Linked DNA regions of Homo sapiens: all the other regions are linked to region 2. Evidence: fine-mapped expression QTL. A gene starts in region 2. Each other region holds a variant in brackets. All regions are shown on one strand. Distances are between the middles of the regions.

Region 1 (10,270 bases), 49 kb before region 2:
TTTTTATTCTGATGAAAAATAATCATTTGGAGCCGGGTGCGGTAGCTCACGCCTGTAATGTCAGCATTTTAGGAGGCCGAGGCAGGTGGACCACTTGAGGTCAGGAGTTTGAGAACAGCTTGGCCAACATGGTGAAACCCCGTCTCTACCAAAAATACAAAAAATTAGCCAGCCGTGGTGGCACACACCTACAGTTCCAGCTGCTTGAGAGGCTGTGGCAGGAGAATCACTTGAACCTTGGAGGTGGTGTTTGCATTGAGCCAAGATCATGCCACTGCACTCCAGCCTGGGTGACAGAGCGGGATTCTGTCTCCAGAAAAGAAAAAAAAAAAGAAAAAGAATCATTTGGCAGATATCACCATTTTACAGATGAGATAACTCAGACTAGGTGGATTGGACTGCCCCAAGTCTTACAGAAATGGTGGCAGAAAATAATAATAATAGCAATAACAACGCCATCAATACTTTATATTTGTATAACACTGTGTGCCTTATACCTGCTTTCATATGCATTATCTAATTTAAGTCTCACAGAAACCACATAAGGTAGATTTTACTATCCTCATTTACCAGACACCAAATGCTTGGAGAGTCTTGGTAACTTAACCAAGGTCACACAGCCAAGAACTGTCAGAGCCAGCTCTCAAAGCGGAGCTCCTGGTCCTGCTGCCTTTCACCCGAGAGAACGAGGGGACACAGTATGTCTGCTTTTGTTTCCCATCTGCTCTATTTAATCTCTTCTAGAGCTGCAGCGATGTGCTCCAGGAGCGCTTTGCTGTAGAAATGAAATGTAGCTCTGCACTCCGACTCGCGGCTCTGCACATCCAGGAACGGATCTACGCCTGTGCCCAGCCACAGAAGATCTCTTTAAAGTATATAGAGTGAGTGGCAGGGGATGGCAGCTGCATTGCATTTATAACTTGCTGGCCCCTGGCCAGGAGGGCCAGATGCCACAGAAAGCTGATAGTCACCCACCTACCCATCTGTCTGTTGTCTTTCCATCCATTTCCCTCTGCACCCTCTCTAATCTGACCTGGCTCCCCCAGATGTCTGAACCTGGCTGCTCTCTCTGGGACAGAAGCCAACTCCAGATGGAATGTCACAGGATTCCCTTGTAAATTGCCTGTTCCTGGGAAGATGTCTTGGGAAATCAGTTGCCAGCATCAGTGTTAAGCTTTTCTAGGGGTGGGAATGCCTTGGAAGTTAATTTTTCCCGTGGATATGAACCAGTTCCTATTGCATTATGTCTCCACTAGAGCAGTTTCAAGTCCTACGATTCCAGCACCTTCTGATTCTTAGCTTAGAATTGTTCTGGACAGCATCACTCAGGTTTGCTAAGCCCCTCCCCAGATCTCAGCTCTGTCCTGCCTGAGCATCAGAATCAGATGGGGAATCATATTTTTAAAAATACAGCATATCCTTGGCCCTACCCCTGATGTACTAAGTCCAATCTCTCGCAGCAGGGCCTGAGAATCTGTAGTTTTAGCAATTTTCTGGGGGATTTTGAAGCTGCTAGGCTGGCACCATGCTGAAGCTTAGCCTAGGGGATTCACAGGAGCTCTGCGTTGCCCCATGAGAGTGTCTTGTACTCTCTTGTATGCTGTCATTATTTGCCATGTATTTTGTAGTGAAAAAGATTCAGAACTCCTGCTCTGACTGATAGATGGTCACACCACACCAAGAGTAATGAGCTCCCAGAATGATCAATGGGGTTTAGTTCCTGAATGCCTGTGGGGATTTTTGTGGAGAGTGTGTGTATGTGTGTGTGAGAAAGAAAAAGAGAGGAGGAGAAAGTGGCTCGTAATTGCTGTATTATGGGAACACTAAGTACTGAATCAAATGTAATTATGCTCTTCATTAGAGCCAAGTACCCTGTAGAAATGGGCCTCCTTGTCTCCAATGTCTCATGGCAGGAAAGACTGGGGAATAGAGAACTTTATATCTCCAACTTTACTCCGAAACATGAAAGGCAAAGACATCAAGAAAGCCATTAGCTTCCACATGAAGAGGAACCAGAATTTGCTGGAACCCCGACAGAAGGTAATGAAGGTGCCTCTGCCGACCCACTCAGCTGTCGTCTGTGAAACCTTAGGAAAAACATTTTCAACACTGCCTGGATTTTAGACCAATGAATAACTCTGACTTCAAGTGTTTTTTTTTCTCTATTAAGCAACTTATTTCTGCTGCCCAGCTACGTTTAAATTATCTACAGATCCTCGGAGAACTCAAGACATATGGTGGAAGAATCTTTAATGCTACTTTAATGGTATGTATTAGAGAACTGTGAAATCCTACTCACGTAAGGGACCTTAGAGATCCTCTGAAAATCAATGTGTCTTTTAGCCTAAAATTCCTGAGGACTCTGTCATGTACTAGAATTTGTCTGGTAAACTAAATAGTACACCACTGGAAAATATTTACCACGCGTTTGCTTGGTGCTACCCCTGTGATAGATGCTAGGGGAAGCAGGGCTGAATAAGATGTGATTTCCGTCCTTGAAGGATGAAACAAGCTACCCAACAAAATGAAGCAAAGCCATGAGACAGGTTCAGGCCTATTGCTGTGGAGTTTGGAGACAGAAGGTAGCACTGCTTGCTTCAGGGTAAGTATAGGGAGGAGAAGGGGTTAAGGAAAGAGGCAAGAGGAAGCCTGAATTTGGCCAGACTTCAGTAGAGAGGAAAAGGCATTCTGGGTCAGAAGGGGATGGTAAGCAGTTCACTCTGGAGCTTTGGGTATATGAAGGTGAAGAGGAAAATTGGAAATCATGAAAGAAAAATAAGAGTGTTTGACTGCCAAGCTGAGTCTCTGATTGTTCAGAAGGGAGGAATGAGGGGTGGGCCTGAGAAGAGAAACGAGAAGCAGAAAAGCCCTCTGCTCTCTTCCCATTCTCCTGCCTGCTTCTTTTTGGAGCCTAGGCCTAGAGCTTGTGCCTTTCAGCAGTCAGTGTCTCGGGGGTATGGTTTCAGAGAGCTTTCCTCCAGCACTGTCAGCCCCAGGACTCTGCAGCACAAAACCAATTTACAATTAGAGTGGGGTTTTAAAAAAATATTAACCAAAATCCTTTCAAAAGATTTGGTATGCATCTCAGTCATTTACAGTGATGGGCCAATGTAATCAGACTGCTAACCTAACAATGTAGATGGAAGAAGAGAATCAGTGTTTTGAAAGAAAGGAAGAGCATCAGATAGTTAGGGGAAGGGGAAACACAGATGGATTCTTCGTTTAAGTAGAAGACCCAAAAGGTGGGAAAGAGACTAGATCACAGAAAGGAAAGTTTTGAAGGTACAAGAAAAACTTCCCAATTTTTCTAAGGGCTAATTCTACCCTCTCCCAGCTGTCCAGTTCCAGTCCCCAGTCTCCCTTTACCTTTCTTGTCTAAGGAAAGAACTGGTAGTGGGAGAAGCAACCAGCTACATGGAACAGGTTCAGGGTGCTTGCTGGGCACTGCGGGTTACAAATAGAGATAAATGCAGACTCTGTTGTCAAGAAACTTAATGTGGAAAATGAGACTTAATACAAATAATTAAAATAAGAAGTCATAAGTGTTCAGTGCTAGTAGAGAAGTAAGAGGAAGTGGTACAGAACAACAGAGAGGAAAGGGAGATTTCTGGCTTAAGGAGGCTGAGATCAGGCAGATGCTTTCCATAGGCAGTAGGTTTTGATGTAAGCTTTTAAAGAAGGATCAGGATTTAAATGGGAAATGATGGCAGGGAAGGGATTCAAAGAGCAGGAAGATAGGTACATAGGTGTGAAAATACAGATGTGTTTATGGCTGTGGCTCAGGGCTATATTGGAAAGAGTTTTGGGGAAATAAATTTACACTTTGATTTAGCTGTTGATGGGGTCCAAGTTAGGCAATAGTCTGGAGGAGTGGTGGTTAGGATCCAAAGTAGGAATCAAGGAGTTTGCAGCGAGAGGTATTATTGCTTACATGTGAAATGTATTTTCACTCGCTTGCGAATGGAGACTAATTCCCCTTCCACCCTCTGCAGTTACAGGATAGAGAATCCTACATTGCCCTTCTAGTTGGAGCCAAGTATGGGATTAGCCAGGTTATCAATAGCAAACTCAACATCATGTCCACATTGGCAGAGTTTGCAAACATCAGCCGTGTAGAGCTAACGGAAGAGTCTGAGAAAGTGAGCGTCGTCAAAGTGTATCTTCAGGACGTCAAGGTAACACAATGGGGAGAGATTCTGAATTCAACTGCTGGAATTTGGGGCCAAATAGGGGCCAGGCTAGTTTATATGAATTTTAAATAATAATAAAGTCTAATGTCCAATATCTGCTTAAGAGGACGAATTGTCCATCCTGTTCTATCAAACGGAAAGTGGTAAATGGTAAATTTTCCTGAAGAGGTCCTAAAAGGTTTTTTTGCACAAACTGAGATGGACCATGTGCTTTCCTGTTGGATTTAGAAACGTAGATGGAGAACACCAGAGGATTTTTTTTTTTTTTTGAGACAGAGTCTCACTCTGTTGCCCAGGCTGGAGGGCAGTGACACGATCTTGGCTCACTGCAAGCTCCGCCTCGTGGGTTCACACCATTCTTCTGCCTCAGCCTCCCAAGTAGCTGGGACTACAGGCGCCCACCACCATGCCCGGCTAATGTTTTGTATTTTTTCGTAGAGATGGGGTTTCACTGTGTTAGCCAGGATGGTCTCGATCTCCTGACCTCGTGATCCACCCGCCTTGGCCTCCCAAAGTGCTGGGATTACAGGCGTGAGCCACCGCGCCCGGCCCACCAGAGGATTTTATCACATGAATGGGACCAGATTGCTGCTCAAAAGCTTTGAGTGGTGGGCATTAAAATGGGTAAATAGTGGGCCCGGTGTGGTGGCTCACGCTTGTAATCCCAGCTACTTGGGAGGCTGAGGCAGGAGAATCACTTAAACCCAGGAGGCAGAGGTTGCAGTGAGCAAAAGATTGCACCATTGCACTCCAGCCTGGTGACAAGAGCAAAACTCTGTCTCAAAAAAAAAAAAAAAAAAGGTAACTAGTGCAGGGTACCTCCTGAGCCTCTCTCAAAGGTCTTACTTTTATTCTGCCCTCCTTTGATTTAATCCCAACATACTCAATATTGGTGCTTTATTCTTATCACCCTCTCCCTCATTCTCCACATGTTCTTGCTCCTTTTTCTTTTTTAAGTTCAGTCTTGCAAGTCCCTCTGCAGGAATGAACAGGGTGGGATGGGGCAGTTTGGATATGGCGCTGGGGTAGAGGATGAGGAGTCAGAAGACACTGTATAGATTGGGTGGGAAGGACCCACTGTGTGTGAGTGAGTGTGTGAGTGCGTGAGAGTGTGTGTGTGTGTGTGTGTATGTGTGCGCACACACACACGCGATGGTGTCTGTACGAGTACATGCATGTCCTCATTTAAAGCCTTGCAAGTGAGGATATGGGGCACCAGGAGACCTACCTGTGGACCATGGCCGGATTTACCTGGAATCTCTCGTTGGTCCCACATGGCTTTGTTGTCAGTCTTCAGACTGTCCCTTGGTCCTTGATAAACATGAGATTTCTATTTGCTTTCAAAGGTTCTGACTTTGCTGCTGGAATCCAACAGTGCAAAAGACCTAGCCTGCCTGATTGCTGGGTACTACAGGCTGTTGGTTGACCCAGTTACCTCCATTTTCCTCTGGCCTGGAAACAAACAACAAGCGCACCGGGTATCTGCAGAAGAAGGTGAGGCACTGAGTCTTGCCCCAATAAGGACAGGCCCCTTTC[A/G]CTGGCCTTGTAGGTAAGGGCAGCCTAAAGGGAGGTGGTGAATTGAATTGAGCCGAGGCTTCAGCTCAAGTGGATGAGAGCTATTTCTCTGTTTATTTCCTAGTAAACAATTGATCTTTCATAAATACTAAACAAAGAAGCTTTCTTTGTATCTGAAATTTTCCTGAAACCAAGGAATGCTGTGGAAGAGCTCTAGTTCCCTGCTGTATTTCCTAAGATTGTCTCTCAGATCCACTGCATTTTATCATTATTTCTCAGCCAGGCATTGTGGCTCACGCCTGTAATCCCAGCACTTTGTGAAGCTGAGGCAGGTGGATCACCTGAGGCCAGGAGTTTGAGACCAGCCTGGCCAACATGGTGAAACCTCATCTCTACTAAAAATACAAAATTAGCCGAGCATGGTGGCACATGCTTGTAATCCCAGCTACTTGGGAGGCTGAGGCAAGAGAATCGCTTGAACCCAGGAAGTGGAGGTTGCAGTGAGCCGAGATCGTGCCATTGCACTCCAGCCTGGGCAACAAGAGCGAAACTCCATCTTAAAAAAAAAAAAAAAAAAAAAAAGATTATCATTATTTCTCATCAAAAAGAGATGTCACTTATTTGTTCAGGAAGTAGATGACCTGGCTTCTCTTCCTTACCTATGCACTCTTTTGCAATCTCTTGAAGTATAAAAGAACTTCTCTGCAAGGCAGGTAAGACAGTTTCCTAGGCCAGCTCCCAGTTTCTGCCAGGCTTTTGCCTCAGCACCATTGATGCAGCATGAACCTAGGGCTGTGCTGATAAATGCTTAACAACTCCCTGCAGAGGGACAAAAACAGTTTGAAGGAATTGCCCAATTCCATGGTGTCAACATTCTCACGATGGGTAATTTCAGGCTACCACGATATGATGATACCATGATGAATGTGGAGATGGGAAGAGGTGATCAATAGCACACCACTGTAGAGTGTTTCCTCTATATGGATAAAGTAGAAATCAGCTCAAGAGAATAGGTACTAATACAATAAGTAAAACAGTTAGAAAGTGATGAGTTTGGAGTATCTGTTACCTTTGTTTTTATTTTTATTTTTTTTAGAGGCAGTCTCTCTCTGTCACCCAGGCTGGAGTGCAGTGGTGCAATCTTGGCTCACTGCAGCCTCCACCTCCTGGGTTCAAGTGATTCTCCTGCCTCAGCCTCCCAAGTAGCTGAGATTACAGACACCTGCCACCACGCCCGGCTAATTTTTGTACATTAGTAGAGATGGGGTTTCGCCATGTTGGTCAGACTGGTCTCGAGCCCCTGACCTCAAATGATCTGCCCACCTTAGCCTCCCAAAGTGCTGAGATTACAGGCATGAGCCACGGCGCCCAGCCTGTTACCTTTGTTGTTACACAATGTATTTATGAACGAGGGGTGACTCCTCAGAGTCTGCTCAGGGAGACAACGCAGAGTGGCAACAGGGCTGTTGTGGAGGGGTTGTGGGGGGGACTGCTGCTGCCTGTCAGAGAAAGTTCTCTAGAGGAAGAGGTATTGGAAATAGATCTTGAAGAACATGCTGGAGTTAACCAGGCACGGAAAAGGAAGACAGATCATTCAAGGCCGAGGGGGCCTGGAGGAATGACCCGAGGAAAAGGCCATGACCTGAAAGGAGCTCTCCCTATGGGTGGCTGGAACGTGGCAGGGAAGGCTGCCATGGGGGACTGGGTGCCTGAGGAGGGGCTGGACCATATTGCAAGAGGGGAAAAGGGAGATGGTGAAAAGAGATAGGAGCCCCACCACGAGAAGGGCAGCTAGACTACAGAGGAGACCTCAGCGCCATTCTGTGAGGGAGACACTAGACTGAAGGGGAGGTGTCAAGACCATCCTGTCGTGGGTACTAGACTGCAGAGGAGGGTTCAGGGCCATCCTGGGAGAGGGGGAAGAGCCTGCAGAGGAGGCCTTAGGGCCATCCTTTGAGGCAAGGGAGGACTAGACTGTGCATGAGGCGCCATGGCCATCCTGTGAGAAGGGCAACAAGGCCATACTGTGAGAGTCTGTAACTGTTGTGGGGGAGGCCAGGCTCTTCCCCGTAAGCAGGGCAGCCATCAGAGGGTTTAAGCAGGGTGTGATGAGGTCAGAGAGAAGTTTGAGAAAGATCACTCTGGAGGCTTACAGGAATAAAGAGATTGCAACCTGGCTCAGTGCTCCCCAGCCTCCTACCATTAATCCTTCCTGAGAACCTGCCGCTGGATGAGTTTTCACTGTCCTACAAAGCCCATAGCACCCATGGATCCAGAAGGCCAGGCTTTAGAATGGTGCCAGCCTAGCAGCCTCGTACTCGTCATAAAATTGCTAAAAATACAGATTCTCAGGCCCCACTTCTAGCGATCTGACTCAGTACATCAGGGGTAGGGCCAAGGATCTGTTGTATTTTTAAAATATGATTCCCCATCTGACTTTGACGCCCAGGCAGGATAGAACTGAGGTCTGGGGAGGGGCTTAGCAAACCTGGGCAGTGCTGCCCACACAAAGAGGAATCAAAGTAAATACCACATTTCCATGAACAGACAGTTCTCCTTGGAGGTGGGGATGGAGTTAATCCAGCCTCCTTTAGCTCAGAGAGATGTGGGACAGGCGGTCTGATAGCATGGGGAGAACATGGAAGCTGGAGTCCCTCGGATCCCGTGTTCGTCAGTATAGGACGGTCTTAGGCCAGCCACCCTCTGGCCCTCAGTTTTCTCGTCTGGCAGGGTTGGGTGGGGGTCAGGGGGCTAGAAGGACACATAGGTAGGAGAATTCTGTTGTGTAACTGTTGCTGTACCCTGTGTTGCAGGCTATGAATCCAGGGCCTGCAGTGACTCAGAGGAGTCCTCTGAGGTGGACTGCGTACTCGAACCTCTCTCTGACAGGCGCCTGGTGAAACTGGCACCCTGCAGATCACTCATAAAGGAGGAGCAGCCTCCTGGGAACAGCCCCACACCTGAGGTGGCTAGGAGGGGCCCCAGCACCTGCGGGGCCAGCAGCACGACAGACAGTGCCGAGTCCGAGGCGTCCGACTCAGCCAACACTGAGAGCCGCGGCTACAGGACCAGTGGCTCGAGTGAGTCCATGGACGCTCTGGAAGAGGATGACTTAGACACCTGCTCCTCCAGCAGGTCCACCTTCTTCCACTTTGGCTCGCCAGGCCTCGCAGAGAGCATTGACTCTGACAGCCAGGAGGAGAGAAGCGGGATTGAAACCAGTGGCTTCCTCTGTCTCCTGGACCTGGCCCAGAGAGCCAACCCCCAGTGCCAGAAGACAGAGTTTTCCGAGAGTGCTGCTTTGGAGACATTTGGCTGGGCACCAGAACTGAGCACAGTCAGGCTGGACCCCAGGCTGTATGAAGGCAGCCACGCTGACTACTACAGCCTGTGTTCCAGTGTCTCCCCGGCCAGCTACCTGAGTGACAGTTCCGAGAGTACAGCTTCCCGGCAAGGGGGAGCCCCGCCAGCCTGGGGTCAGCAGGGCTGGACTGAGGCCCAGCCCAGTTCCATGCTGGAACCCCTGGCCCTGCACCCACCACTGGCCTTTGAGGATGGCAGCTCAGATGAGGAATACTATGACGCGGCTGATAAGCTCACTCCCCCAGGCCCCCCGTCAGGTGAGCCGTCCCTTGCAGGTCTGCAGACACGGCAGGCAGCTCCTGAGTGCCTCCCGGGGATCAAGGCCTGGGGCCAAGCTTGAGAGGAAGGCACATGAGTGAAACAGGGTCCCTGTACACTTCTGAGGAGGTAGATACAGATTCCATGGACCAAATTTTAGGCATCGTGGCAGGCCTGCAAGGGAGGTTCAGACAACTGTGGCAAGCAGATGGGAGGGATTCATCCAACAGTGGGAATCAGGGAAGGCTTCCCAGAAGAGGGGGCAAATGGGCTGGGCCCTGTGGGAGGGACAGAATTTACAAAAAAGGAAAGGGCTTGACAGGAGTGCCCGGCAGAGCGAAGTGGCTATGTCATCACTGATCCTGAGGCTGCATTAAAGGAGGCCTTGAAGCAAGAAGAACCAGACAGACAGGCCGTCTGTGGCCCTGCAAGGCCTTCTGGGGTCCAAGGGACCCTGACATCAGAAGGTAGGGGATCTGGTGGCTGTGTTTCTATCAGGTTCCTCATACATTCCTCCACCGAGAGTGTGGAGGGTCTTTCCAAGCAGAACTGAGATCCTGGCAGGACACACACACACACACACACACACACACACACACACACACACTGCATTCTGAAGGAAACATATTGGAAAAGAGCACATGGATGTTGAAGGTGACCTGCCAGGAGCTGGGAGAGCTGCAGCCCTTGTTCCTGTCTCGGCACTTTCCTGCTGCTCTCTGATCCTCTATTCCCAGACCTCCTGTGCTCTCCCACTGTTCTGGAGAGAAAGGCCAGCTCCTCTGGGAGCCCCATCAGGCCCTTTGAGGCCCTCTGTGACATGGCCTCTGCCTGTCTCTCTCCCTCCTCCTGCATTCCTGCCATACAGACCTCCTTGCCACTTTCTACAAGTGCCTGTTTTTTCCCCCTCCTCCAGCCTTTGCACATGCTGCTCTTTCTGACCG
Region 2 (10,270 bases):
TTTATACTTAGGTATTCCACATTTCCTCTGGTGAACCTGGCTTACTGTTATAATCACAAAATTATTTTACTGCTGACCTCCAGTTAATTATGGAAGCTGTAGCAATTACTAAGGGAGTTAACTCCAAATAAACCCTAATACTGTTTTTTAGTAAACTTTATTGTACCGAACAAAAAAAATGATTTTGCAATGATTTTCTCTCCCACAAAAGCGTGGGTGAAAACCAGTAACTTATAAAAATACTTTCGGACTCTAATAATACATACATTCACACCTTATCTTCTGAGTATTTAAATGGGGGAGGTTCACCTGAAAAAACCCATAGTTTTTTGCCTCAACTGACCTGTAAAAAAGTCCACCTATATCAACTTTCTGCCAATCTGGAGAAGATCTGTTTTCTTTGATCTGACGTCATGTGTTCACAAGCTTCTAAAATGTTTGCCAAAATTAAAGTCTGCTGGATGGTTTTTGCCTTAACCCATATTCTTCCATTCATTCCAAATACTATCTCCAGTGGATAGAGTTTTCCCACTTCCTGTATGATTTCACAATCTGGAGCTAATAGCCTGGTGGGAAGAGAAAAGAAAATGAAATTTAATGAAGTGGCAAAGGTGTGTCCGGAGTCTCCTTTAGAATGTGATTCCTTTTCTGAGCAGTTCTCCATAGCTGTTCAACAAGAACAAGGCACGTGATGACATTTGCTGCCTCCTTTCTTCCAAGAAGGAACTTTACACTGTTCAAAGGTATACTAGAAATCACAGAGGTGGGCTATGCCTTACAAAGAAATCAAACTCCCTAGGTTACCAACTTTGTAAAAGTCATTCCCCTAGATGGTCAGAGCACTTTAATTCTAGACTGGGAATCATAACTTTTTTTATCTACAGTGTTAAGACACTTTAAACTTATTTTCCTGGCCATATTATTCTCTTGTGTTAAATTCAGTACTTGGAGAGGAACATTGGCTCTTTCAAACCATAAGGGTGGTGCTTGGTTAATAACATGCTTCTTGGTTAAAAACATGCTTCTCTGATGTCCAAACTTAATTCTCCAGATCTTTAGGATATGTAGTAAGGAGAGGCATACAAGATAGCTCTCAACTTCACTGGCTCTAGGAGTAAAGCCCCTGAATATGGCACAGCTTTGGGTGGGTAAAGTTCTAAACACCAAAAAGAGAATCTGCCTCAGCATGAACCTCAGTATGCCTCAGTATGACCAAGTGTCAGAAGCCTTCTGTGAATGTCTACATAACCTTGAACATCACAATCTAAGCTGCGTGTGACCCCCATAATTAGAAAAAATTGATAATTTTATACAACTGCAGACTGCATCTGTATTCAAGTGACTCAGAACAGGGGAAAGGCCAGTTTTCACATTTGGGCTAAGTCAAATAAGCAACAGGCCTGGGAAGGAAGATATGAATACAGAGTAAGAGCTTAAGGCATGAAGTATCAGCCCACCAGAAACTACACAGCCAAACACATCTGAATTTGATATGTTTCCAAGAAGATAGGATTAAATTCATGAGTTTCCAAATGTGTTAAAATGGATACTGATTTCTAACTCTGAGGAGAAATTCAAACGTTACAAAGAATCTGAATCCTGAAGATTAACCAACTTTCCAAGAATGTATAATTATAAAAAGCAGTCAAGCCAGCAGACATCAGGACTTACTTTCTAATTAAGCCCAGAGTCACTTTAAAAAGCAGACCATCCTGTCCAATGACACCCATTCCATTGGCTCGTCCACAGCTGTCAATACAGACCATCTCTGGTTCCATGTCTTTATTAGCAACCACAAACTGGCCATAGATGAGATCTCCAACCTACAATGATATTAAAAACCAGTTCATTTCCTCTCAGCAAACTACAGGTGCTACTATTGGTTCTTTCTCACAGGCATCAATGCCAGCCACCTACAGTTCTGTGGCTAAGGGACTGACTGCACTATAGGATTCCCACAGTCACTTTGGAGTTGAGTCTTGGGGAAAAAAAGGAACACATGTATCATTCCCTTTCACCAATCAGGAAATCACAGACGAGGAGCCATCTCAAGGCCAGAGAACACTAGGATTGCACTGTCCAATATGGTAGATAGCCAATTGTTTAAACTTACATTTAAATTAAAATTAGGTATTTAAAATTAATTTCCTGAGTTGCATTAGCCACATTTCAAGTGCTCAACAGCTAGTGGCTACCATACTAATCAGTGCAGATACAAAACAGCATCACTGTAGAAAGTTATATTAGGTCGCACTACCCTAGAGAATTACAGATTTACAGAGAAAGGAAGGAACTCCGGCATGCAAATTATTCAAAGCAAAATCAAACAATAATTCACTGACACTTCTCCCTGCAGGATTTACTTAAAAACCTCATAGAGCTAAACTTCAAAGGGACGAAACTGAGGAAATGGAGAGTGAACTCATTCTGTTCACTCAACAAAACGTATTAAGTACCTACTGTTTGTTGGTGACTATGTAAACTAGAAAGGAACAAAACATTCTCTGCTTTTCAGAAGCATTTGGTCTTGGAGGGCAGTGGGGAGGTACATATAAACAAACCTCAGTCAAGGCTCAATCCAGTAAGTGCTAGAGCAAAGATACGAGAAAAGTGGCAACTAGAGATGGCTTTACAGAGGTGGTCATGTTTAGCCTACGTCTCAAAGAATGAGAATGTGTTCCATAGGGTGCGAAGGGATAGTGCAATCAAGACAGTGGGAACAGCATGTGCAAATAAGGGCAGGAAATTGAGTTTAATGGCGTTTGGTGTGATTTGAGTATGGCTGTATGAAGGATATAATTAGGGATGAGGAAAGACACCTGGAGTGTAATGCCAAGGAATTCTGTAGATTTTGGAGAATCTTGTCTTTTCGAGAAAGTGACCGTGTGAGGATGTCAGCTCTCAAAATCCTGGATGGTGAGGTAAAAGCGTGGAGGCAGGGATTAATGAAGAAGTGACTGAGACCAGTCAAGAGGGAGCTGAAGCCTGAACTTGTGGAGATAAAGGGACGGACATGCCAAAGATCAGAGACAGAATCAAATAGGATCAAAATAGGATTAAGCAACTAAATTTGCATGAGAAGTGAATGAGAAGAGGTGAAGAAATCACTAAATTTCAGGCTGGATAGACAAGAAGAGTGTGGCTATGCTACCTGAAAAGCTCAAATTGAAAACCCAAGGTAACAATATTACTCCTCTATCAGCTCCTAGGACCTACAGCCAGGATGGATGGATAGCTGATAATGTCAATTTGCACCACCTGTCCCTCCTCTAAGCCTACAGCAGACATCCTTGTCCAGAGGATATGGACATAACAAATAATGGCGATGATAGATACAACCTTTCAACTCAGTAGAAATGAAACATCCCAAGAACAAATGTAGCCAATGTAAAATAAATTGTAAATGTAAAAAATAATAATAATAATTATGTGGCTCTGATCCTGGAGCATCTGAAGAAACTCTTGGAGCCTGGGGCAATTATATACAAGCTCAGAGATCTAGGTCATGCTTTGGAGACAATTCAGATAGCCTTCTGGATATGTGAGTGTTCTAGGGAATGGATGTTTGTTTCTTTGAAACCAAAGGCTCCCGTAATTACCTGCACATTTGGTCTGTTTCTTTTAGTTGCACCTTCAAATGACAAGTAAGACAAAGAAGCTGGCTCACTCCCTCCAACATCAACTTTGAATATATCTCCAGATTTAGCTGTCACTATGCCAATCACATGGTCTCCTTTTACTGGAACATACTACAAAAAGAAACAGAATGAAAAAACAGCCATAAATGACAAGATACCATTGGAAGATACCTTCAGCAAGTCCTTTGTGGTTACTTTATTGTCATTAAAGAGAAATCTGATCAAATGCCACTTTCGGTAAAAGAAAATCACTTCATAAAGTGCCGGGTGTGCAGCTTCTGGTAGTCTGTTAATTGAGTCCAAACTCCATTATCTCTTAGGCACCCCAACCAGTAAGTCTCTAGCTTTGTGGCATAAGTCCAGTGGCAAAGGAATCCTTACAACCAAGGAAGCCCATTCCATAGACAATTTTTTCTATATGAAATTCTTACCTGTTCTAGGAGAAATTAACTCCCTATGACATCCACTCATTGAGCCTAGTCCTGCCCTCTGAGACTCCAAACGGCAGGCCTGCTGTGGGGTTTTGAAGACTATAATCATGACTCACGGTCTCCAAACGTTTTTCTCTCCTGGTCGCCCTTCTCAGGCTATGTTCCTATTGTTCACGGTCCCTCTAAAGGACATGCAGAAGTGGGCACAAGACTACGGTGGCTCTAGGTTTGCCTGAACAAAAGAGGGCCTCAGGGTCCCTCTCTTCTTTTGGGAGGTCTTCTCAAAGCAGGGCTACCACTCTCACTGCCGCACCACCCCTCCGGAGTCCCAGCTCACCCGCTTCTGCTGAGAGTCCACCCAGTAAACACCGCCGCCGCTGCCACTGCCGGGCTCCTTGTGACGGAGGCGGCCGCACTTGGTGACCAGCAGGCGGTCCCCACAGCGCCGAAGGCCCGGACCGCATACAACGCGCACCCGCGAGCACGCTCTAGCATTCAGGCTCAACGGTCGCTCCACTGCACCCCCAGGGCCTTCCGCGTCCTCCTGTTCCGGCAGGAGCAGCTCCTCACCCGGGAGCACCACCTGACCTAGTACTGTGCGTGCAGCGCGCGCCCTGCTGCCCGCGAGAGATTCAGCCGCGACAGACGCAGGTTCGGCCATCGCGGGCTCCACCAAACACCGTTTCCGGTACCCGCCTTCCGCTTCCGCTCCGCTTCCAACACCCGCCCTTGAGGACTTTCCGTTTCCGGCAGTAGCGGTCCGTTGGATTCGGACCAGTTTATGAAGCTTGATGGCCGTCAGCTCACGGGTCCCTGTCCAAGGTGGCAGTGATTGTGGCCGGCCACCTATCTGACAGCCTGGCCGCGGGTCGGTATGAAAACCGCGCAGCTTGGTCCATCGAAAAGCCTCCACTTCCAGTGTCTCGGGTCGCGTGTTTTGTGACCGGTCGCATCGTGGGGATACGAGATACTTCCACTTAAGAGTTTCTTGGGATCTCTGGAAGCTGAGCAGAGGGGCTTTGAAAATTGGACGCTGGGGCCGGGCGCGGTGGCTCACGCCTGTAATCCCAGAAGTTTGGGAGGCCGAGGCGGGTGGATCATTTGAGGTCAGGAGTTCAAGACCAGCCTGGCCACCATGGTGAAACCCTGTCTCTACTAAAAATACAAAAATTAGCCGGGCGTGGTGGCACGCACGTGTAATCCCAGCTACTCGGAAGGCTGAGACAGGAGAATCACTTGAACCTAGGAGGCGGAGGTTACAGTGAGCCTAGATGGTGCCACTGCACTCCAGTCTGGAGGACAGAGTGAGACCCTGTCAAAAAAAAAAAAAAAAGGGAAATTGGACGCTAGGTGGGTTCATGGGACCTTCTTTCCGACTCCGCCCTCAGAAGAGTGGCTGACCTTTTAACAGGAAAAGTAGTTTTTTTCAAAATAAATAAAACCTTCTTGGTTGTTAGAGATCTAGTCACATTTAGAAAACACAGAGAAAAATAAAAGAAGAAAATAAACGATGTTTTAATCTTGCCCGTTTTTCTCCCTTGCTACACTGTAGTTCTGATTCTTTAGAGCCCAAGGTGTGGCATGAAATAGGTAATACCTGATGAATGAACGAATGTATTCCTTTGGTGTGTATTTCTCCCTAGACTTTTTCCCCCTGCAAATATACATATTTCACATGCTTCCGATAGCCCTACATGGCCTGGAATATCAGTAACTCAAATTTCCCTGGAGCACACTTAGTTGCGCACGTGAGAAGCAGTTGAATTCCAAACCCAAAGAGATTCCAATCATCTATCTGACTTTGGGGGTTCTATTTTAAATCACCGTTTTCTCTGTCAACTCGAACCTTCAATTAGTGCTTGATCAGATTCTCCAGCAGTGGTAGAATTCCTAGGGTCTGGGAGGCCGTGACTGACCGATTGCCTTTAGCGGCCCTCCCTTTCTACTGCTCATCTCTTTGAGGCACCTGCTTCCAACGTAATTTTTAGATTTTTTTTTTTAGACGGAGTCTCGCTCTGTCGCCCAGGCTGGACTACAGTGGCACCATCTCGGCTCACTGCAACCTCCGCCTCCCAGGTTCAAGCAATTCTCCTGCCTCAGGCTCCCGAGTAGCTAGGATTACAGGAGTGCACCACCGCACCTGGCTAATTTTTGTATTTTTAGTAGAGACAGCGTTTCACCATGCTGGCCAGGCTGGTCTTGAACGCCTGACCTCAAGCGATAGGCCCACTTTGGCCTCCCAAAGTACTGGGATTACAGGCATGAGCCACCAAGCCCGGCCGAATTTTTAGATTTTTTAGGATGATTAAGACAGATCATCTCTAACACACCCTCCAAATTTGGCAAGCCATTTTCCCCTGGGTATAAAAAAAGGTCAACAAATAAAAGGAGCTCCCACCTCCAGGTTAGTTTCCCTGGCAAGAGTGGGAGCTCCTGTGGCAGGGACAGCGTAAATTGTGCTCTCTTCCCCACTCCAGAAGTATTCGGTGACCACGCCTGCCTCAATCTTGGCAGGCCCAAGGCCATGGCTCAAGGGCGCTCAAGGACCTCACATTCCGGCCAGGCAAACAGGCAGGTCGGTAAATGTTCTCTGGACCGTCTTTGATACACCCCATGTCGGTAGTGAAGTCTCTGGAGGAAACTCGGCCCAGATCTAGCGGCTGAGTCCTATGAGGCCCACTACCCTGTGGAGGCCGCACGTGGCGAGCGGTGTAGCTCTCTCGCGGGTCAAGGCAGATGAAACAGGGAGGCCGGGACCCGAAGGCGGTGGCTGGGCGGGGCTCCACTCCTGAACACCTACCACCCTGACACGCCCAGAGCGGGTGGGGCACGCGGGACCGCAGCCTGCCCACCAGACCGCGCGCAACCGAGGAGGTGTTTCGCCACCTGGCGGTCTTGCGCCCTGTCGAGAGTGAGCACCCGGTCCTAGGCGGCGGGAGCCCTAGGCCGCGAACGAGTGTCTCGAACCCGGCTTCAAGCCGTCGAGGGCGCGCGGGTCGGTTCTAGCGTCCCATGGGTCGCGGTTCGCGTTTTCGGGCAGCGCGTGCCTCCTCTCCTGGTTATAAAAGTGGGAAAAGTGCAACGACTGGGGAATGCAGAGGAGGCCAGAGCCCGGTGCAGGCGGCGTGCGCGCTTTGCCCTCTGCGGGTGCGTGTGTTTCCTTGCCAATCGCGAGGTGGATTACGCCCGTTCTCTTCAGAGGCTTACTGGTTTCGAGCCGAAGCAGTCGAGACTGCTCACCTTTCCAGTGCCTCTGGCCTACGTCTCCCCATTCGGAGTGTAACCAGGCCCCTTGAGATTTAAGTAGTCTGGCATTTTTAGTAACTGAAGTATTGAAAATTCCGTTTGGTGTTTTTTTTTTTTCTGTTTTGTTTTGTTTTTTGTTTTTGAGGCAAAGTCTCGCTCTGCCGCCCAGACTGGAGTGCAGTGGTACGATGTCGGCTCACTGCAACCTCCACCTCCTAAATTCAAGCGATTCTCTTGCCTCAGCCTCCCAAGTAGCTGGGATTACAGGCATGCACCACCATGACTGGCTAACTTTTGTATTTTTAGTAGAGAGGGGGTTTCGCCATGTTGGCCAGGCTGGTCTCAAACTCCTAACCTCAAATGATCCGCCTGCCTCGGCCTCCCAAAGTGCTGGGATTCCGGACGTTAGCCACCGCGCCCGGCCGTAGTGAAAATTCTGATCAGGCCCTTGCCTGCATGCACATAGTAAGCGCTCCCGTTTTGCCCAATATCTCTTGTTCCCACAATATAATTATAAACTGCTGTTGTCCTGTTTCTTTGTCTAGCAGGAGAGATAACTTCAGGGTCATGAAAATATTTTGCAGAAGGAATGAATGCCATTAAGGACTTTTTGACCAGCTGCTGACACCCATAAGTCTGGTTGCTCAAAGTTTTATCTGAGACTGTAGAGGCACAGACTTTTCCCCTCTGTTCCCGGAAACCCTCCCTCACACCCTACCCCATAAAAACGCCTGCTGTCATCTCTTTGTTAAGTAACATTTGAGAGATCTTGCTCTTCCGCCTTCTTGCTTTGGCCCAATTGAACAAACCTTTCTCTATCTCCAAGCACCTGTGTCTTAGCGTTTGGCTTCAGCTCTGCATCAGGTACATGAGACTGAATTTGGGGTTACACAACATTAGTATGACATATGGGGAAATTGCCAAATTGACCTTTGGAAAGGTTGGACCAGAGTGTAGCTTTCTGGACTCCTCCCAGAACTTCCTCTTCATAACTAATCTTTGCTAGTTTAGAAGTTAGAAACGTGGCATCTCACGGTTGCTTTTCTTTACCGACTGGTGAGGTTGGGCATTTGTTCCTTTTAACCAACACTAGTTGAGCATTTGCTTTCAGCCAGGAATTGAGCTGGGGAGGCGGCTGAGTCCTGGTCCCTGCCCTTGGGGGAGTTCACTCTCTCCACATGAAGATAGCAAGTGTTAAGGTGGATGCAACAACCTGAATAGAGTGTCAGCCCTGAGGGTACAGAGGATGAAATAGTTGTCTCTACATGGAAGGAAGGCAGGGGTTAGGATAGGTGTTACAAAGGAAGTAATAATTTGAGTGAATCTTTAATATTTTTTACTTTACTAGTTTCTAAAATTATAAATGAACTACATGCTAATTTACATACTGAAATTAACCATAAAAGCCCATGAAAGTATTGTTAACATCTTTATTCAAATACAGGATTTAATCTAAAAACATAAATGCCCACAGTTATCACTGCACAAATGACAGACTACTTGCTACAGATATTTTTACACAAGGATCATAACTTCTCAAACAGGATTTATTGTAAAAAGTAAAAGAACACTTTTTTTTTTTTTTTGAGACGGAGTCTTGGTCTGTTGCCCACGCTGGAGTGCAGTGACTTGATCTTGGCTCACTGCAACCTCCGCCTCCCAGGTTCAAGCGATTCTCCTGCCTCAGCCCCGCAAGTAGTTGGGACTACAGGCACACATCACCACTCCCGGCTAATTTTTGTATTTTTAGTAGAGACGGGGTTTCGCCACATTGGCCAGGCTGGTCTCGAACTCCTGACCTCAGGTAATCCGCCCATCTCGGCCTCCCAAAGTACTGGGATTACAGGCGTGAGCCGCCACACCTGGCCCAGAACACGCTTTTTTCTTACCAACTACTGTTTTAAATGTATTAGCAATTCCATAAAATATAGTTTCCTCACCATCATTTCCCAAATCTGAACTACATTCTGTTGGCTAGATTCTTATGTGGAATAACATTCAAGTTTGGTCTTAGTGTATCACAATACAGGATTGATTTTAAATACTCAAAATTACATGGTTTTCTGGTTTCCAACAGCTTTGCCATTTATCTGCATTTCTTGAATAAGGAAACATCTTTCTAGTTCATGTTTATTTTCATTTTGTAGTGTGTGTGTGTGCCTGTGTCATGGCACCCTTTGTTAGAGAAGAGCCCCAACCTCCTAGAGAATAGCAAGAAATAACAAGACTCCAACGGAGACGACTAAGCAAGAAAGCAGGTTCACCAGCCACAACTCCATTGGTACCAATGTAGATGAGATTTGGTGGATCAGATGAAGAAATTTATTATTCAACACAGCATACAGTAGGAGTACCAGCAAGGTAGCACTGGTTGGCCTGTCCTCAAGTCCTATGGAGTAAATGCAATGGGCCCGGACAGTGGTTGCACATGCAGTGGTTTGCACCATGACTGAGGGATCCAGGGCTAAGGGCCTAGCATCTTTTGTAGCAAGTGGCAAACCAACCAGCCTCCTTCCCTGAGGGAGTGAGCTGTTGTATGGTAGTTATGCTGTGGTCATCTTAACCTAGTTAAATGCCGATGTGACTAGCTAGAAATGGTTCAGTATTAGGGGAAAGTTAGGCCTTGTGTTTGGCATACTTCGCAAGCACATGCAGAGATGCTCAAGGCCACAGCAAACTGCCTGTCCCAATAGAAGTCAAGGCCTGTCATCATCTGACTCTACCTTATCTCTGCAGTGTCATCTCATGCAATTTTTTTTAGTGATCTAAGTTTTTTATCATTCTGGACTATTCACCAAGGCCACTTTAGCTGTTGTATTCTTCTAGCTACTGATTCTCTCCTCTTATCTCCTGCCACACAGCAAGATTCCTGAACACAGACAATAACTGCTCAATAAATGTAAGGATGAAAGGGCCTGAAATTGTGACAACTACATAAGAAAACTGTGTGTCATG
Region 3 (10,270 bases), 95 kb after region 2:
AATGAAGTACACAGATTAACTCTACATTACTTAAATTTATATAAATGTATACACCTGTGTAACCCAAACATCTGTCAACATATAGAGTACTACCACCATCCCAGCAAGTTCTCTCCTGCCTCTTCCAGGTGAACCTCTGCCCCCATCCTCCCAGAGGGAAACACTGTTTGTTTGTTTGTTTGTTTCTGCTACAGATTTTCCTCTTCTAGAACTTCACGTAAGTGAAATTATCCATTATGTATTCCTCTTGATGATTTCTAAAAGAAATTCTTAAGAAATTAAAAGGGTTTCCGAAACAAGGAGAATAATTGATAAAGAAAATATCAGAGATCAGATTGATTACTTCATTAAATGTATTTATTATGAGAACCTCTAATCTGTGGATATAGAAATCTGAAAGACAGACCCTGCCCTCGAGGAGATCACATTGTCCTGGCAGATAAAGTACAAACATGCAGTTAGAGACAGGCAAGAAACAGTTATCACTTGGCACAGAAGGGGCCTAATCCAGCCTGGGAGGCGATGGAGAAATCAAGAGACATTTACATTTTCACTTTGGAACTTGTCTCGGGCAGCCAGTGCTCTTTATTTTCCATAAAAGTCTAGAACCTCTTAACTCAAAATGATTTGTCCTGAAATGGCAGTTTTACAACACTGAGTAGGTGTAACACAAACTCGCTAAATAAAATAAATGAGGAAAAACTGTAAAAGGCACAAACTGAAATTATTGGGGATTCTGTTTTCCTCTAGTTCGAGTTGAAATAGACTCAAATAGATGTGTTATTGCTCCCAAACACAAATAACATGCATTCCTGTTCTTGGATCACAAGTGGCAGAAGCTTTCAAGAGCTCTAGATAGCAACAGCAAAACTTTAATCTTCTTGGACTTCCCTTTAACCTTCTCAAGGTATATAAAACTGTTGCTGGTTGGGCATGGTGGCTCATGCCTATAATCCCAGCACTTTGGGAGGCTGAGGCGGGAGGATCATTTGAGGCCAGGAGTTTGTGACCAGCCTAGGCCAACATAGCAAGACCTCATCTCTACCAAAAACCAAAACCAAATCAATTGTATCTTCAAACTGAGGCCCTCATCTCCTAATTTTTTTTACTCTTTACTTCCATATTTTACACACAGATTACAAATGAAAGATCCTCAGTTTCCACCTGTACCCACTTTTTCCTACCTTGGTCCTTCTCAGAACTCTATCACTGTTATTTAATGAGGAGGTAAAGCCCGAGAAAACCTGGAAATTTGTTTAGCCACACTTTCCCCAGAAAACTGAGAGGGCTAAGGAAAATTCTGAAGCTTCTTTTGCCCAAGGAAACAAGAAAGCTACTTACTATAAACCACCCATTATAGATATGATGACCCTTGAAAGAGAAATAGTTTATTTTTCTTCGTATTGTCTGAAACAAGAGAGCATCTCAGTGTAACTAAATGCATTTTTTAGTGTACATCAGAAGGAAGTAATTGCTTAATAAAGAGGGCCTGAACTGAGTTTGTTTTATTTCTGTTGATCATGAAAGGTAGAGCAGCTGTAGAGGTGAGCTGCCCTAAAACAATGTAAACAAGTCACTGCCTTAATGGTGCTTCTAACAGTAACAAAGCAGTGCTCCATGACAAACTATTCTAAAGAATACTTTCTTCTTGCTCTTCCTAGTCAATTTCATTCAATTGAGCTCCACAATTCAGAAACAGTGCCAGGAGGGATAAGAAAAATGGAGTGCCTGTACCTCTGAATCCTGACTCATGCACAAGTGTTTTATCTCAAATTGGCTAGACATTTCTCAGAGTAAAGGATCGCTGGCAGTGTTTGGAAACTAAAGGAGAATAAAGAACAGTCTCATCAATCATGCAGCTAATGTTGTGGACTGAATTCATATATTGAAGCCCTAACTTCCAATGTGATAGTATTTGGAGGTGAGGGCTTTGGGTGGTAATTAGGGTTAGATGAGGTCATGAGAGAGGTGCCCATGATGGGATTAGTAATCTTATAAAGATAACTAATTTATAATTACTTATAAAGGGCTGAGATTAGAACTTTCTCTCCATTATGTGAGGGTATAGCAAGAGGACAGCCCTCTGCAAACCAGGGAGAGGGCCCTCACCAGGAACCAAATCTGCTGGCTCCTTGATCTTGGACTTCCCAACCTCCAGAACCATGAGAAATAAATGTTGTTTAAGCCAGTGGTCCCCAACCTTTTTGGCACCAGGGACTGGTTTTATGGAAGACAATTTTTCCACAGATAGGTGGAGCGACACAATGGTTTGGGGATGAAACTGTTCCACCTCAGATCATCAGGCATTAGATTTTCATAAGGAGTGCACAATCTAGATCCCTTGCATTTGCAGTTCACAGTAGGGTTTGCATTCCAATGAGAATCTAATGCTGCCACTGATCTGACAGGAGGCAGAGCTCAGGTAGTAATGCTCACTTACCCACTGCTCACCTCCTTCTGTGCAGCCTGGCTCCAAACAGATGGGTACCTGTCCGTGGCCCAGGCGTTGGGGAACCCTGATTTAAGTCATCCAGTCTATGGTACTTTGTTATGGCAGCCCAAGCTAAAACAATTCAGTACTTTGAGATCAATGTAAAAATTACCTTTTCCTTAAATGACCTCCATGACCCATTAACAAATGAAGGCTGACCTTCATTCGGTCATTTCATAGGATATTCCAGAATGCTGTGATACTGAATATCCATGTGTCCCATCATTCTTGATTCTTGGTTGTTTTTTTTTTTTTTTTTTTTTTGAGACAAGGTCTTACTATATTGCCTAGGCTGGACTTGAACTCTCAAACTCCTGGACTCAATAGATCCTCCTGCCTTGGCCACCCAAAATGCTGAGATTGCAGGCGTGAGCCACTGTGCCCTGCCAGGACTGGCTTTTTAAAGAGGCAACAGGGCCAGGCATGGTGGCTCATGCCTGTAATCCCAGCACTTTGGGAGGCTGAGGTGGGTGGATCACTTGAGCTCAGAAGTTTGAGACCAGCCTAGGCAACATGGTGAAACCCTGTCTCTACAAAAAATACAAAATTTAGCTGGGAATGGTGGCACACACCTGTGGTCCCAGCTACTGGCAATGCTGAGATGGGAGGATCGCTTGAGCCTGGGAGGCTGAGGCTGCAGTGGGCCAAGATTGCGCCAATGCACTCCAGCCTAGGTGACAGAGTGAGAATCTGTGTCAATAAATAAATAAATAAATAAATAAAGCAAGAGGTATCAAATATTCACAACAGAGATTTCTGCCTCTCAGCATGGGTGCAACTTTCATCCCACTCAGGATAATAGTGAGAGCTGAGGTACTGAACATTGCTAAAAAACTATGTGAGGGTAAAACAAAAGAGGTCTATGAATTGCTTGTTAGATAGGCCAGGAAAAGTCCTGCAATCTAAGGACCAGATTACAGCAGGAAATGCAGTCAGAATCACCTGGAAGGAAAAGCTGCAATCTCAAATAAAATTACCAGTTGCATTTTTCTGTTGTTACAGGAAGCAGGTATTAAAACTGCTTTCACCAGAAAATGTGAGGAGACAGCTTTCATTGTGCCCCAGTGTGAAATAATTCCAACTGAATGGTTTGCAGAAGAATACCAACTGGTTCTTCACTCGAAAGAAATCCTGGTGTCAAGGAAGGATGTGAGTTTTGCCCACCTAAAGTGGAGATGTTTTTCAAGGATGATGCCAATCATGACCCACAGTGGTCTAGGCAACAGCTAATTGCAGCAAAATTTGGCTTTGCTGCACTTGGTATAAAACTGAAGTGGATATCATGAGTCATGCCACATAGGCTGTTTTTGAAATCCCGGAGAAATCCCGGTTGCTCCCAGAACTGTACACCGGTTGATATGAAGATTGAATTTGGTGTTCATGTGACCAGCAAAGAAATTCTCACTGATGTTATTGATAATGACTCCTAGAGACACTCACCATCGGGGGAGCAAAGCCAATAGAAAGACAGTCTTTTAATCATACTTTTAAAAATGTTATTTTAAAAAAATAGAGCCAGTCTTGCCATGTTGCCCAGACTCAAGCAATCCTCCTGCCTTAGCCTCCCAAAGTGCTGGGATTACAGGCGTGAGCCACCACTCCTGGCTGAAACAGTCTTATCAAGGCTTCAGTGTAACTCCTGAAGGGTTCCAAATGGTAAGGAAAAACTTTGCGTGGGTTGTAGAGAGTAGAGTTGCTTTTGAAATCAGAAAGTCAGTGCAGTGTTATAGTATTGATGGGTTCTACTTCTGATCTTAATCACCGTGAAAAAAATCAAGGCCTGTGGAAATTTTGGCATTCCATGTAGACTTTGAGTAACATCTGCACATAAAGGACCAGAAGAAATGCTGAGGATTAAAGCTGAGTATGAAGGGGTGGCAGTCGTACTGTATTTGTGGCAGTGGCAGGCAGAAGCAATGGTTTGGGATCAGTGATGTTTGGGAACACTACACATCCAGTTATCTATTGTCCTCCCCTCACACCAGACTGAGGAGTTCAGGATGTGTGGTCTTCTCTGCGACTACTCAGTGGTCTCGGCTATTCAACCATACTTTCTCCAGAAGGATCAGCTCAGTTTGCTACTCAGATATTTGGATTAAACAACCATTTATTATGGGGCAAACTGCAAGCAAGCACTTTGAACACATGGATTTTTTGGAAGAAAGGTGACAAGAAAATCAGAGAAAACATCATTGCATTTTTAGGGGGAAAACTACAAATTTCTAATTTAGCTGCAGAAAAAATAATTAGAGAACACAAATAAAATGTACTAGTGAATACATGCTTCTCTAGACCCAAACAAAAACTATTTGCAACGTAATTAAAACAG[GT/G]TAAGTGCTGTGAAAAATAGAAACATGGTGACATAGAAGAGCCTGACGGGGGAACCTAACCGAGTCCTGAGAGTGTAAGCCAGCTTCCCCAAGGAAGTGACACTTCAACCGAGATCTGAAGGACAGCAGTCTATAAATGAAGTAGAGAAAGGCAGTGCTGAGGGCAGAGGGCACCTGCATGGGCAGAGGCTGGGAGCAAGATGAGTACAGCGTGCCCCAAGTAATCAGGAAGTGCCAGTGGCTGGAGTGCAGAGACAGCAGCGCAGTTTTAGCTAGAGATGAGAGTAAGGGAGGCAAGGGCTGGATCATCCTGTCTCCTGTAGGCCACAGCAAGATGTTTGGTCTTTATGGCAGAGGAAAAGCATTTATTGAAGTGACATTTTAAAAAATTACTGATGGCCGGGCACGGCGGCTCACGCCTGTAATCCCAGCACTTTGGGAGGCTGAGGCAGGTGGATCACTTAAGGTCAGGAGTTTGAGACCAGCCTGGCGCAAAACTGTCTCTACTGAAAAAATACGAAATTTAGCCGGGTGTGATGGCGGATGCCTGCAATCCCAGCTACTCCGGAGGCTGAGGCAGGAGAGTCGCCTGAACACAGGAGGCAGAGGGTGCAGTGAGCCAAGATTTCACCACTGCACTCCAGCCTGGCGACAGAGACCACGTCTCAAAAAAAAAAAAAAAAATTATTGACAATATGAAGAATAGATTGAAGGGAGATAGGAACTGAGATAAATCCTATTTTACCTTCGATTTCTACTTTAAAATCACATATACTCATTTGGACAAAAAATTTCCTAGTTGGGAACGTCAGATAAATAGATTTAAGGCAGCCGGCGCGGTGGCTCACGCCTATAATCCCAGCACTTTGGGAGGCCGAGGTGGGCAGATCACCTGAGGTTAGGAGTTTGAGACCAGCCTGACCAACATGGAGAAACCCCATCTCTACTAAAAATACAAAATTAGCCAGGCGTGGTGGCGCATGCCTGTAATCCCAGCTACTTGGGAGGCGGAGGCAGGAGAATCACTTGAACCCAGAGGTCGGAGGTTGCGGTGAGCCGAGATCACGCCATTGCATTCCAGCCTGGTCACAAGAGCGAAACCCCGTCTCTAAATAAAAAAGTAAATAAATAAATAAAAAGATTTAAGATGGGAACCAGTCTCTTGGGGATTGGGAGTGCTCTGTAGCTATGCAGAGATCCCCCAGGGCTGTTCCTGGTCACACCTACTCCTCACTCTGGAGGTCTAGAACTCTACAGTGGCTGCTATGGGTGGGTTAAAAGATTTCATCAGATGATGATTAAACACCCTTTTTATCAAATCTAAATGTACAAGTTCAGGATATTACACTTATTCTTTATGATGGATTTCAATCCAAAACAGGACTTTTAGAAGCAACTGCTCCTTTACCTTGCTGTCCTTATCAGGCAACCTCAATGATCTCTAAAGCCAGGAAACAACCTAAAACTTAACATGCAAATTCACAATGTGGCTAAAACTTCACACTCTCCTAACCAATGAGCTACAACAGAAAGGAGCAGCTCTGAAGGCAAAAGTAGATATAAAAAAAAAAAAAAAATGAAAAGCACAAACATCCAGACCATGTAACTTGGGAGTAAACATTGCATGAGGCTACTCTATTACAACAGAAAGTACTGATAAGCTAAACCAAGAAAGTTTAAACTCAGTAGAGAAGTGTATTAAATATGAGGAAGACCTTTAAGAAATAAAATGTGGCCAGGCACAGTAGCTCACGCCTGTAATCCCAGACTTTTGGGAGGCCAAGGTGGGCAGATTGCTCGAGCCCAGGAGTTCAAGACCAGCCTGGGCAACATGATGAAAATCTCTACAAAAATTAGCTGGGCTTGGTGGCACGTACCTGTAGTCCCAGCTACTCAGGAGGCTGAGGCGGAAGGATCGCTTGAGCCCAGGAAGTCAAGGCTATAGTGAGCCATGATCATGCCACTACACTCCAGCCCAGGCAATAGAAACCCTGTCAAACAAACAAACAAAAAGCTTTGCAGTTAAACTACCTGGAAAATAAAACTTATATGAAACCCCTCTTGACGAAATAAGATGGATAGACAAAGGAATGTTTTACCTGCAACATCCCCAGGTTAAGTTGCTAAAAGTCAAGGTAGTGTGCTAAATGTTTTCTGAATAAAAAGACTAACAGATCAATCTATCACTACCACAAAAAAGGAACGTGCCAGTAACAAGCAACTACTCAAGCATAAGAGAAGACCAAAAAGAGTGGGCTTAAAAAACAAACTTTATTCCAAATTATCAAAAAAAAAGTGTTAACTCTGAAACATTTAACAGATTTCATTTAAACTCATAGGGTCATAAAACTCAAACTATCAAACAAAAATAGCATTGTGCACTTAACCACTTTCAATAATGAACCTTCAAGAGGAAACATTTAGAGACTCCCACACAATTTGGGAGCCAATAGGCAACACATATTTAATATTAAGCAAAGACAGCATTAAAAACTAAAAATCCTCAAATTTCAAGAGAATACCTGTTCAAGTCTTTGATATACATTTGCACATGAGAAAAGAAATATTTTAATTTAAAAGAGACCAAGTCTGAGTGCTTATCCTTTCTTCAAATGTAATCTCCTGTCCACCCTTCATTTTATGACTGCATACGCCTCACTCTACTTCATCTACACTGAACCAGTGTTCGTTCAACATGATTGGCTTCACTCGAAGCCCTCTAGATCCCATTTCATATATCCCATCGACCACCATTATTCCCTTACATGTTTGCACAGCCTTATACTGAGCATTACATTGTAACCAAGCTTGGGAATTTCAGGTATCCAAAGGTAATTATATACACAAACGCTTCTGTTTTATTGCACAGTTCACAATATAGCTGGTGATTACACAACCAACCATGTTAAGATGAATATCGACTATTTAGACAAATACATCGATTTTGTCCCCAACCACAAATGAAACAAGAAAGACACACATATTCGCCACCATATCAAGGTTGTGTTTACTCTGTGGTGCAGTCCTGAGGGCTCATACCACTCTCAGTGTGTTCAATACGGAATCCATAACATTTCTGGTGGCATCACACATGAAGTATAGGACACAAGACCATAAGTGTCCTGCGCTCATGAGCCATTTGTGCCACAGACGTAACAGAAAGGCCACTTTTAAAGCTTTTCAGATATTCAATCACATTTGCCTTTTCAATTTTTTTTTTTGAGACAGAGTTTCACTCTGTTGCCCAGGCTGGAGTGCAGTGGCGCAATCTCGGCTCACTGCAACCTCCGCCTCCCAGGTTCAAGCGATTCTCCTGCCTCAGCCTCCTGGGTAGCCGGGATCACAGGCATGTGCCACCATACCCGGCTAGTTTTTTGTATTTTTAGTAGAGATGGGGTTTCGCCATGTTGGCCAGGCTGGTCTCAAACTTCTGACCTCAAGTGATCCACCCGCCTTGGCCTCCCAAAGTGCTGGGATTACAGGCGTGAGCCACCGCACCCGGCCTGCCTTTTCAAAGTTGTTACCACACTAGTTCACACTGAAGGTAAAAGCAATAGTTAGAATCTCTTATTAACAACACATTTTGACTTCAAGTTCAGACAAAGCTGTTGGTTACAAGTTCTGCTAAATTTTTTGTCAAATTTAAGAAGTCTATAGGACAACACAAAACCATCCCTGGTAATGTATTTGCAGTTTGGTCTTCAAAAGCTGTAAAGAGTGACAAAGAAATAAAAAAAAATACTGAGTTAAAACCATTAAAAATATTTATTAATAATTGTTTTTAAATGCCACTTATTTGAGACAGCAGAAACCAAAGCATTTTCTTTAGAATTCTCACTTAGCTTGTATTTCACAAAAGTGCTTTAGAACTCAGATTTCTACCACCTGTGTGGAGTGTAAAGACAAAAGGAAGCCCAACAAAACCAAAGGCCCAATGGTGTCTATTCCCAGGGCCAAGGTATAACCCCAGGCTAACCCACCTGCCCTGGGCTGAGTAGCTGCACACACCTGTGAGTGCTCAAAGTCACACGCATGATTGAGGGGGTCAGGCACCAAGGTGCCTTTATTTATTCATTTCTCAAACTCAATTCCCTTCAAATCCTGACTCGATTTAATAGGCCAATGGATGCTACTCATATTTATTTGGTGCCAAATTATTATTTTTTTAAATCCTTACATCTGCACCTTGAAAGCAAACTGCAATATCCAGCACAACATTGTCAGAGCTGCTGTATGGCTATTTAGCTTTATTACTGCCTGGCTAATGCTTAATACGCTTCATCCTTTACAGCTGGAAGAAGGATGGTCACTGTATTTAACCAGCCATAGTGCATTTAGAGGTCAACAGCTTTTATGGACTATTTGTCCAAGAACTTTCAGTAAACTACCAAGTTGAGGCCTTTATTTTGGTCAGTATGTATAAATATTCATATGCAATTATCCAGAAAGAAGAAAAACTGGTTAACAAGAAACCTACTGTCATGTCAGATGCTGGAAATCAATCTTTAGCTACATAATATTTACAGAAAGGGTTTTAAGATGCATAATCCACTTTTTCAGTCTGTCTCTTGTATTTCATTAGTCAATTGGAAGTGGCACAAGTTTCATCTGGAAAAAATATTTTCACCTTTTCTAATTCTTTTGACAAATAAGTTTTTGTCTGTTAAGGGATGAGAATGCTATTTGGCTATTACCTACTTTTAGAATTCAAACTAACCCTTCAAATGTCTTTATTTAGATCATATGCTCTCAAACTATCTTATTGTTTTACTGACACAATGGTAAAACTGGGTTCCCAAAATGTCAAAACCCTAATGGAGTCTCTATTTCCAAGAGTAAAATAAAAGACAGCTAACACTGTGAGGTGAAAACTATCCTGAGCCTTTTTTCCCCTCTCTTTAACATTTAGAAACTAGGGGGAAAAAAGTGGGATTGCATTAATAGACTTCCAAAACAAAATGTTATGGAAGTGTTTATTTTTTAAAAGGAGAGTTTTAAGAGAACAGGATGCTTGAATATGACCAACTCCCACTCAAGGGGAAAAATAACCACAGGCCTTTGCTGAGATGGCACCAGTAATTCAAAGAAACCAAGCTAACCAGAATTTGATCCACACACAAAATGAAAACTTGTTAACAGGATGGAACAACTATAACAAGATTCAAGTCCCTTCATCTTTTGGCAATGAAATAAGTGAAATTATAACACAAGGACATTTTGGAAGGGTTGAAGATCACAGTCAGAATCAAACAGAAAACTTTCAAACCTAGAAAGCAAAACAGGAACTTTCATAGCTCCTTGATCTACCATATCTAAATAGAAATAGTATAATGCCTATCCAATAGGTGCTTAGTTTCAAAACTAATACAAGCAATTTATCATGAAAAGCCTATACCTAATAAGCTGTTTTTCTTTTCTGTTCTGCCCCTTTGTCATATGCTTGAGCTTA

Evidence for each region. PIP is the estimated chance that this variant, and not a neighbour inherited with it, causes the effect.
Region 1: its variant is the best candidate, but not a certain one, in a credible set for the expression of EXOSC3 in transverse colon (GTEx, PIP 0.66).
Region 3: its variant is the best candidate, but not a certain one, in a credible set for the expression of EXOSC3 in aorta (GTEx, PIP 0.55).

The regions. Positions count from the first base shown.
Region 1 is chr9:37,731,560-37,741,829 of GRCh38, forward strand. FRMPD1 (FERM and PDZ domain containing 1) reads left to right here. Exons shown (of 16, transcript NM_014907.3): 10 at 745-881; 11 at 1,914-2,040; 12 at 2,171-2,266; 13 at 3,993-4,175; 14 at 5,537-5,684; 15 at 8,519-9,325. Among named protein-coding and RNA genes, the nearest start is that of TRMT10B, 17 kb to the right of the region's middle. The variant A/G (reference allele first, on the strand shown) is at 5,727.
Region 2 is chr9:37,780,315-37,790,584 of GRCh38, forward strand. EXOSC3 (exosome component 3) reads right to left here and starts at 4,750. Exons shown (of 4, transcript NM_016042.4): 1 at 4,407-4,750; 2 at 3,600-3,749; 3 at 1,672-1,823; 4 at 1-566. The coding sequence starts at 4,730. The coding sequence ends at 365. LOC105376037 (a long non-coding RNA gene) reads right to left here. Exons shown (of 3, transcript XR_929599.3): 3 at 8,732-10,270. RefSeq lists enhancers at 4,433-4,492, 4,490-5,005, 4,503-4,642.
Region 3 is chr9:37,874,820-37,885,089 of GRCh38, forward strand. It overlaps a transcript of SLC25A51 not described here and the pseudogene PAICSP1. Among named protein-coding and RNA genes, the nearest start is that of SLC25A51, 24 kb to the right of the region's middle. The variant GT/G (reference allele first, on the strand shown) is at 4,821.